Regions from separate parts of the Homo sapiens genome. Here region 2 is linked to region 1. Evidence: fine-mapped expression QTL. Tissue or cell type: cerebellum. Region 1 holds a variant in brackets; the other region holds the start of a gene. All regions are shown on one strand. Distances are from middle to middle.

What was found. PIP is the estimated chance that this variant, and not a neighbour inherited with it, causes the effect.
Region 2: it holds the start of PRKD2, and the variant in region 1 is fine-mapped to the expression of PRKD2 in cerebellum (GTEx, PIP 0.99).

The regions. Positions count from the first base shown.
Region 1 is chr19:46,760,441-46,765,583 of GRCh38, reverse strand. No RefSeq gene overlaps it. Among named protein-coding and RNA genes, the nearest start is that of STRN4, 17 kb to the right of the region's middle. RefSeq lists a silencer at 3,838-4,132. The variant T/C (reference allele first, on the strand shown) is at 2,206.
Region 2 is chr19:46,714,596-46,719,738 of GRCh38, reverse strand. It overlaps PRKD2 (protein kinase D2), which reads left to right and starts at 2,625. Exons shown (of 18, transcript NM_016457.5): 1 at 2,625-3,608. The coding sequence starts at 3,369. STRN4 (striatin 4) reads left to right here. Exons shown (of 18, transcript NM_013403.3): 18 at 1-228. LOC107987269 reads left to right here and starts at 17. Exons shown (of 4, transcript XM_017027568.2): 1 at 17-1,093; 2 at 1,237-1,386; 3 at 1,763-1,940; 4 at 2,562-3,205. The coding sequence starts at 676. The coding sequence ends at 2,928. RefSeq lists enhancers at 1,330-1,379, 4,891-5,143 and silencers at 2,500-2,659, 2,680-2,729.

The DNA.
Region 1 (5,143 bases):
TGGGATTACAGGCATAAGCCACCACGCCAGGCCTGCTCTACTTTTTTTTTTTTTTTTTAAAGACAGGGTCTTGCTCTGTTGCCCAGGCTGGAATGCAGTTTCATGATCACAGCTCATTTCAGCTTTGACCTCCCAGGCTCAAGTGACACTCCCACCTCAGCCTCCTAAGTAGCTGGGACTATAGGCCCATGCTACCCTGCCCAGCTATTTTTTTTTCTTAATTTTTGTTTTTTGTAGCGACACAGTCTCTGTATGTTGTCCAGGCTGGTTTTGAACTCCTGGGCTGAAAGGATCCTCCCACCTACGCCTCCCAAAGTGCTGGGATTATAGTTGTGAACCACCGTGCCCTGCCCTGTTCTCCTTTTTTAATAGCAACAGTCCCCTCCCAACAGACGATAGAATTCACTGGTTTATGATGTTTATTGTTTCCTGCCTGTCCCCACTGGGAAGGTCACTCTGTGGGGGAACCATCTTTGAATTGTTCACTGCTGTAGGCTCAGAGTCTAGCATAGGGTCCGGTGCATGCGTATAGCAGGAGCTCAATAAACACTCGTGGAATGGTGGAAGAGGCTGGTTCAGTCTCGACTCTGCTGCCTGGCAACTATGTGACCTTGGATGAGCACTGCCAGGTCTCACCCGCCGGTGACAATGGCTCTCTTATGCCTCACCCAAAGGCTGCTAGTGCAGGTTACGTAAGAGCAGAAGAAAAGGCACTTTGACGGTCACTCCCTGGGTCCCAGTTCCCAGCTCCCACCTTTCTCTCCCTTTCTCCATTGCCCCACCCACCCCTCTTGCCTCTTTGAAGGAGCTTGGCCCAGGAAGGAGGGCCCAGGCTGGCCCCGGATTAGGGTTGGTCCTGGGTTCTAGGCTCAGAGTGGCAGTATGGGGACAGAAAGGCAGAGGGCAGTGACTCAGTTTTGTCTCTCTTAGAGACAGGTCAATGTTCTTAGGCCTGTTGGATTCTGCCCCCATCTGCTCTTTTTGAGGTCAACTTTATTGAGGTATAATTTACATACAATAGGCCGGGCAAGGTGGCTCACACCTGTAATCCTAGCACTTTGGGAGGTCAAGGCAAATCATTTGAGGCCAGGAGTTCAAGACCAGCCTGGCCAACATGGTGAAACTCCATCTCCACTAAAAATACAAAAATTAACCAGGTGTGGTTGTGCACACCTGTAATCCCAGCTACTCAGGTGGCTGAGGCATGAGAATCACTTGAATCCAGAAGGTAGAGGTTGCAGTGAGCCAAGACTGCACCACTGCACTCTAGCCTGGGCAACAGAGCAAGGCTGGCTCCAAAAAAATTGTTTCATATGATAAATTGCACCCGTTAAAATCAATTAGGCCAGGCTCATGCCTGTAATTCCAGCACTTTGAGAGGCCGAGGCAGAAGGATCGCTTGAGCCCAGGAGTTTGAGACCAGCCTGAGCAATGCTGCGAGACCCTGTCTCAAAATAAATAAATAAATAAATAAAATACAGTTAAATGAGTTTTGACAGATGAATATACTGTGAAAAACCACTCCCATAATCAAGATACATGATATTCTCATCATCCCCAAATTTCCTCATGCTTCTTTGCAGTCTGCCCCTCTCTCCAGCTCCAGGCCCCGGTAACCACTGATCTGCTTTTGGTCACTATGAATTAGTTTTACCTCTTCTAGAATTTTACATTGGTGGAATCATATACTATGTAGCGTCTTGCATCTGGCTTTTTTTTATGTGTCATAATGCTTTTGGGATTTATTCTTATTTTTGCATGTATCAGTAGTTTGTTCTTTCTTTTCTTTTCTTTTTTTTTTTTTGAGATGGAGTTTCACTCTTGTTGCCCAGACTGGAGTGCAATGGCACAATCTCGGCTCACTACAACCTCCGCCTCCCGAGTTCAAGTGATTCTCCTGCCTTGGCCTCCCAAGTGGCTGGGATTACAGGCATGTGCCACCATGCCCAGCTAATTTTGTATTTTTAGTAGAGACAGGGTTTTGCCATGTTGGTCAGGCTGGTCTTGAACTCCCGACCTCAGGTGATCGGCCCGCCTCGACCTCCCAAAGTGCTGGGATTACAGGCGTGAGCCACCACGTCCGGCCCAGTTCTTTCCTTTTTTAAAAAACTTGCTAAGGAGTATTATGTTGTCTGAGTGTACCACAGTTTGCTTATCCACCCACCTGTTGATTTACATCTGATGGTTTCCAGGTTGGGGCTATTG[T/C]GCATAAAGGTGCATTTGTAGACAGGTTTTTTATTTTTTATTTACCTTATTTTATTTTTGAGACAGAATCTTGCTCTGTTGCCCAGGCTGGAGTGCAGTGGTGCAATCTCGGCTCACTGCAACCTCCACCTCCCAGGTTCAAGCAATTCTCCTGCCTCAGCTTCCTGAGTAGCTGGGATTACAGGCACCCACCATCACGCCCGGCTAATTTTTGTATTTTTAGTAGGGATGGGGTTTCACCATGTTGTTCAGGCTGGTCTTGAACTCCTGACCTCAAGTAATCCGCCCTCTTCGGCCTCCCAAAGTGCTGGGATTACAGGTGTGAGCCGCCACACCTGGCTAATTTTTGTATTTTTAGTAGAGACGTGGTTTCACCATGTTGACTGGGCTGGTCTCAAACTCCTGACCTCAAGTGATCTGCCCGCCTCAGCCTCCCAAAGTGCTGGGATTACAGGCATGAGCCACTCGCCCCTCCTAAATTTTTTTGGTAGAGACAGGGTCTCAACATATTACCCTGGGTGGCCTCCACCTCCTGGGCTCATGTGATCCTCCAGCCTTGGTCTTCCAAAGCGTTGGGATTACAGGCATTAGCCACCACACCTGGCTAATGTAGACAGGTCTTTACATGCCACTATTGTTCATAGCAAATATTTTGTAACATGTAGGGCTGATAGACAAAATATTTACTGCTTGGCAAAGTCATCAGTCCATCCAACATCCGGGATATGGGTCCCTCTTATCTCCCACTATACCCAGTTTAACCCCTGGACTTCTGGGCCAGAGGGCAGCCCAGGGGATCCCCAGGGAGAGCTAGGAGGATACTAATAGTCAGGGGGTTCATGGCAGTGACCGTTTATGAATGAGTAAATAATCCATAATTTAGTGTTTTGCTGTCTTAACCACTGGCGTGGCCATACCAGGGCGTGTGCTGGCTTGAATGTCAGTTCTGGGAAAGTTCTCTCTGTTCTCCTGAAATGAAGTTCATAGACAGTATAACCCACTGGCACATGATTTAACATGATTTAAGAAAATCCTACTTTGGGAGGCCAAGGTGGGCAGATCACTCGAGTCCAGGAATTTGAGACCAGCCTGAGCAACATGGTGAAACCCCATCTCTACTTAAAATACACACACACACACACACACACACACACACACACGTATTTTTAGTAGAGATGGGGTTTCACCATGTTGGCCAGGCTGGTCTCGAACTCCTGACCTCAAGTAATCCATCCGCCTTGGCCTCCCAAACTGCTGGCATTACAGGCGTGCGACACCGCACCTAGCTAATTTTTGTATTTTTAGTAGAGACATTATATATATAAATATATTTATATATATATATATATAAAAGCTGGGTGTGGTAGTACTTATCTGTAGTCCCAGCTACTCGGGAGGCTGAGGTGGGAGAATCGCCTGAGCCTGGGAAGTTGAGGCTGCAGTGAGCCAAGACTGTGCCACTGCACTGCAGCCTGGGTGACAGAGTGAGACCCTGTCTCAGAAACAACAACAACAGCAGCAGCAACAAAAACGATCCTTGATTGCCCTAAATGTAATAAAAAGGAGAAATAAGAACATAGTAACTTACAATAAGCATTTCATTATGCGGATGTGTGGAGCCAGTCCCCTAGAACCCAAGGAGGTAGGCAGATGTTTATGCCTGTAATATAGACAGTTCCAACACATTGAAAACACGTGGACTGGTGTCCAATTACCAAGAGCCATGTGCAATGTGAGTTTTTTCACATGGTGGACAACCTTTGGCCAAGTTTTGAACAAAACACGATACAAGCTTCCCTCATTTTTTGTGGTAGTTGCACTTCCTGGAAGATTCCGAGGCTATTTAAAAACAAAAAGGACTTTGTACGTACAAGAGAGAGATTTTTGGCCAGGGTTTTCACCTCCAAGTAAGGCTAAAATTTAGTTGGTCTGAACTAGTATGGAAATACTGTTCTTTCTTGTTTGTTTTTGAGACAGAGTCTCGCTCTGTCACCCAGGCTGGAGTGCAGTGGCATGATCTTGGCTCACTGCAACCTCCGCCTCCTGGGTTCAAGCGATTCTCCTGCCTCAGCCTCCTGAGTAGCTGGGACTACAGGCGCCCACCACCATGCCCGGCTAGTTTTTGTATTTTTAGTAGAGACAGGGTTTCACCATATTGGCCAGGCTGGTCTTGAACTCCTGACCTTGTGATCCACCCACCTCGGCCTCCCAAAGTGCTAGGATTACAGGCGTGAGTCACCATACTTGGCCAATACTGGTTGTTAAAATACTGAAATACTTCTGACTGGATAATAATAGTACAAGAGTAGTTGAGAAAGCACTGAAATTCAATACATATTTGAATAAAAATGAATTAGTTCAAGTTAATTGTGACAGATCTTTGTCATATCATAACTTAGGTGATAATAAGGATTTTTGTTTTTTTGAGACAGGGTCTCACTCTGTTGCCCAAGCTGGAATGCAGTGACATGATCATGGCTCACTGTAGCCTTGACCTCCTGGGCTCAGGTGATCCTCCCACCTCAGCATCCTGAGTAGCTGGGACTGCAGGGGTGCACCACCACGCCCAGCTAATTGCTGTATTTTTAGTAGAGACATGGTTTTGCCTTGTTGGCCAGGCTGGTCTTGAACTCCTGGCTTCAAGTGATCTGCCCGCCTCAGCCTCCCAAAGTGGTGGGATTACAGGCATGAGCCACCCCGCCTGGCCCCTAGTCTGGTCTTGAACTCCTGGGCTCAAGCAATTCACCTGCCTCGGCCTTCCAAAGTGCTGGGATTAATGGTGTAAACCACCACGCCCTGCTCAATTTTTGAAATGTTTTGTAGAGATGAGGGTCTCTCTATGTTGCCCAGGCTGGTCTCGAATTCCTGGCTTCAAGCCATCCTCCTGTCTTGGCCTCCCAAGGTGCTGGGATTACACTATGCCTGGCCTAAAATATTT
Region 2 (5,143 bases), 46 kb after region 1:
CTGTATAAATAACGGGATTTTCATGGCGCCGCCCCACCCGCATTATCACTGTGTGATGGTCTCAGTCAGTCTCCTCCCTGTCTCCACTCTTTCCCTCTATTTATTTCACTCTCTTGTTTGGTTCTACCCTGCACCCTCGGTCCCCTTCCAGGTTCCTGTTTATAAGCCCCAACCCCTCTGTCCCCATCTTGTATGTGAAAACTTGTCTCAATAAACCCTTTGGAGTAAGATGGGTGACGGTGCCATCTGTTGAGGGCACTGGGGACTTTGGGGGAGGAGTGACCGGCTCTGCCTGGGTTGGGTGGAGTTTGGAGAGAGGGGATATGATGGGTTGGGGTTTTGTGGTAGGGCAGCAGGGGCCGGAGACGGGCCCAGAGCTTGGGTGGGGTGTGGGTGGAGAGAAGTGGAGGCACTGGACCGAATCTCCTTGTGCCCTTTCTGTCCCTAAGTGCTCCCTCCCCAGGGGTAGAGCCCTGGGGAGCAGATACTATGATGACAGTCCAGCTGAAGCCTCAGCCCCGCCTGGGATGTGTGAGGGTGGTGGCGAGGCCAAAGGGCTGGTGCCCAGAGGACGTAAACCCCCTTCCTGTTCCCATCCCAGGCCCACAAGGAGCAGGGAGGGAAAAGGCTGCACCTGCCAGTGGAGGATGATGGCTTTGGGGCGCAGGCTCCTCCATGCTGGGAGGAGGTGCCGCAGGTGCCCGAGCCCTCGTGGCTCATGTCCTGATGCGTCCCTCCTTTCCCTTCTCAGTGGTCCACGTCTACTGTACTGAGTGCTTTACATGGCATTTCACTGGGTCCACAGCCTTAAAAAGAGGGAGCAGGTGTCCACATGCTCCAGATGAGACGGAGGGGACCGCTGCTCCTGTCTCGAGGAGGCTTCCACCACCTACCAGCCAGGCGTCCTCGGTAATCCTAGCACCTCTGCCACAGGGCACTAATGCCCAGTTCCTGGGTTGTAAAGGGCTGTGCCCCAGTCCCCCAGCAGGCCCCAGTGAACATACGAGAAAGGATGGAGGCCGCTGTCTGGACACTCAGGACATGGCAGCGTTTTGCTGGGACAGTCATCTGCCCTTCAGGAAAAAGGGTGCAGGTGGGCAGGAGGCCCTTAGATGACGCCAAGGGGAGCCTTCGTGGGCTCCACGTGGTGTGCTCCCTGCCCATCCCTCTGGGCTCAATGCAGTTCCCCAGGTGGTGGTTTGGGTTTTCACTCCAGCCTCAGACTTCCTTCCTCAGCCCCAGCCCCCGGATGTGGTGACAGAATCGATACTGTACCGACCTCAGCTACCCCCAACGGCCGTACACCAGGAAGAGGGGCTCTTCTGGCAGCCCCCATCCTCAGCCAGCCCTGCCATTTCCAGTCCTGCCAGCATCCCAGCCAGACAGGTGGCCCTTCTCTTAGAGCTCAAACCTAGGCCTTGACTTGTCAATCAAAGGGGTGGGTGGGGCAGCTTCCCTCAAGCAACTTCACTCTGGGATCTTGGGCAAGACGTTTTGCTTCTCTGAGGCTTCAGCTTATTCTGTGTAAACTAAATGGTAGCCACTATTTGATTATTAGCTGGGGAGGAGAGATCAAGCCTGACCCCTGTAGCGGCTGGAGTTTTACAGCAGGGCCCACCCAGCACCCAGTAGGTCCTCACAGATACTTGCTGGGTGACTGAATGGGTGTGCCCACCCATCAAAGCCTGAGTGCTGGAGGTGGCCACCCCTTTCCGCGTATTATCAGAGACAACCACCTCTTACTGAACTGCTGCGTTTCCAGGCACCAGTATACCATGGCATCGGCTCCCACCATCCCATGTGGGGTCAGTCCTATTACAGTCCCAACAGATGGAGGGACTGAGGCTCACAGAGAAGCCACTCACCCAAAGTCACATGGAGAGAAAGACACGCACACGTACTCCACATCCCCAGGAGACACACTCTGCATCTATGAAGTGGTATGGGTGTGCTGTCCTCCCTCGGGGCAGCCCCACACTATCCTAAGGCGGGGTTGGGGTGGGCGGGGGGATGGACCCTCCCCACCCATCCAGTTAGCGCCATGCACCTTGCCCACCATCGCTGGAGACAGACCTAAGGCGAGCCCCTTCCTACCCATCTGGAGGCCTCGGTCTTTCCATGTGTTAAATGGGCTGGGGCCGGGGGACGCTCTGCAGCACCCCCTTCCCTGGGCTGGGACGCGGCGGGGAGGGCAGGGGTGACGCTCGGAGAACAGAGAGGCCGAACCCAGAGAGCGGGCCGGGACCTGATACCGATTTCCCACCCGTCCCCTGCCATGGGCGCCGGACGCCTGCCGGAGAGGGCTCCCCTCCTTAAAGGGCCAGTGGCCTCCAAGCCCGACGCCTGCGACCGGCGGTGGGTGATAGTGTTTCCCCTCCCTGTCCAGCCGAGGGAAAAGTTAACTTTCCAGGCTTGGCTGTGTTCAGGGAAGGAACTGGTCTCGCCTGCCTGCCCTCCATCCCTCACACCATCCCTTGTCCCGGACCCTGGAGGCGGAGGTCCAGCCCCCAACTCGGAGGCCCCGGGCCCACCCTCCCCTTCCGCCCCCGGCCCCTCGGCAGGCTCCGCCCCTCTCTGACGTCGCCGAGGCCCGCGCCGATTGGTCGACTGCACTGTCGCTCCGGACACTTCCTCCTGGGCCGCCGCCGCCGCCGCCGACTTAAACTTTGGAGGGGGAAAAAGAGCTACTGGCGCCTGGCGACCCTCCCTGCCCCCCACCCAACCCCGCTCCGGCAACGCCCCCTTCCTCACGGCTCCCGACCGAACTTTTCTCCAACTTCTGCGACTCGTGAGATTCCCTTCTACCCACTCCGGCCCTCGGGACCCCTCTGCCCATCCCCTGGCCGGTCGGGTCCCTGCGAACCCCTTTATCTCTGGAATCCACTCGGTCCCCGACTCAGAGACTCCTGCCCTCCACCCCCAAGGTGAATTCCCCCGGGCCGCCTTCTGAGTGGGATCCTCTTCTTGGAGCACTGGATCCTGGGATTCCCTCTGCCCCCTTCTCAATCCCTCCTCTAGGGAAGGGGCCTTTGAATCGCGGGCTCTCCTGATCCCTGTGACCCCGACCTACTAGATTTCCTCTCAGGCTTCTTGGAATCTCAATCGCTGGGACCTCCAACCCACTACTTTTCTCCTTTCTGATCTTCTGGGAGCCCTGGATTCCGGGCCTCTGACCCACTATAGTGCCTTTCTCTCCTTCCCAGGACCCCGCCATCCTCAGGTCCCCTCCGCCTGCCAGATCTTTTCTCGGATCCCCGCTCTCCCACCACCTGCTCACGAGATCCCGCGGATCTAGAACCCAGGGTCCCCCGGGGCCCCCCGGCCGGGTCCCGGGTGGGCTCCAGGCGGCCGGTCCCCGGCCTCCCCCCATGGCCACCGCCCCCTCTTATCCCGCCGGGCTCCCTGGCTCTCCCGGGCCGGGGTCTCCTCCGCCCCCCGGCGGCCTAGAGCTGCAGTCGCCGCCACCGCTACTGCCCCAGATCCCGGCCCCGGGTTCCGGGGTCTCCTTTCACATCCAGATCGGGCTGACCCGCGAGTTCGTGCTGTTGCCCGCCGCCTCCGAGCTGGCTCATGTGAAGCAGCTGGCCTGTTCCATCGTGGACCAGAAGGTGAGGGCGCAGGCTCCCTGGATCCAGCTCGGGGAGAGGTTGAAGGAGGGGGCGCTGGCAGAGGGGTCTGGGGCCTGGTGTGCGGAAGAGGGAGGAAGGAGACCTGAGCTTTGGGTGATGGAGGGATAGGGGGCATTGCCCCCCTCCATTGCCCCTCTCCCCACCATCCCTTTGAGAGAGGACTGGGCAGGGGTGGGGTGCCCCAGAGGCCTCCCCAAATTTCATGTCCCTGCATGTCGTTGTTTTCTGCAGCAAACAGGGAGGAAGGGAGGGGCCAGCCAGGTGTAGAGAGGGGAGGAAGGGGCAGCAGATGTCGGCGGACCTCCACGTCCAGGCCCATCCCGGGCCTCCCATTTGGTGGAAACAGGAGAAATTGAACCCGGGCTGGCCATGGTGATCCGGTGACATGTGTGGGTGCAGGTGCTTGAGTTAGCTGCCAGGGGCAAGTGAGGTCTCGGAGCCCAATTCTGCCCTCCCCTAAGCCTGAGATATGTGTGGAGGGGCAGGCACTCCTACAGACCCTGGGGACTCTATTCCCTTTCCTAGTCACAGTGCTGTTAGCCTACTCTTAATTTTGGACACCAGGGTCCCCAGGGTGGGCAGCTGGGTGTTATGGCAAGAGGAAACCAGGTGGAACTCCACGTCTAAACCGTGAAATGTTAAAAGAATAGTGGGCTTCTGTGTTGGAGTACTGGACTGTAGAAATGTTAGAATATTAGAATCATAACTTGTTGGAATATGCATCCTAGGCAATTAAATTGCCCCCATGTTCGTGTTCAAATATTAGAATTCTAGGTTTGTGAAATAGTAAAACATTAAAATGCTGGAATATTAGATTCCTAGATTGTTGAATCCTAGAAAGTTAAAATGTTAGAATTTTAGAATGCTGGATGGATGAGGTCCTTGAATGCTAAAGAATTCAAAGAGCACAGTCCTAGCTTGTCAGACTCCTAGAATATTAAAATATTAGATTACCGCTTATTTAGGTTATTGAAATCCTAAAATGTATAGTGATACCAGGTAGGAATCTAGAATGTATAATTCTATAATGTGAGCATGTTGGAGTCCCAAAATATCCAAATTCCAGAATCTTTTCAGACTCCTGGAAATGAATCCTTTGGGCATCAGAGAAACGTGGGGAACTGGGCCAGCTCCCCCATTCTACAGACAAGGAAACTGAAGCTTAGAGAAAAACTTCCCAAGGGGTCAGGGCCAAGGCAGTCCTGGTCTTCTGTGGACTCTCTCTTAGCAGTGAGAACTGATAGGGTTTTGCCCACCAAATGCCTCAATCCCGCAGGCCCAGCTCACCACCCCAACTCAGCCCACTTCATGGGAAGCTGGTGGCAGTGGGGGTACGGGGGCAGATTGTCCCTTGGGTGAACTTCTTTGTCCAGTGCTCAAGTCCCCAGCCTGCCCCGCTCAGGCTTCACCCCAGTTTTATTTTTCTGCCAGGTCCAGGTGTGTTAGGGCCGCTTACCTTCCTTCCCGAGGCCCCACCGGGGCAGTTTCACTTTCTGTTCTACTAGGTTTCATTT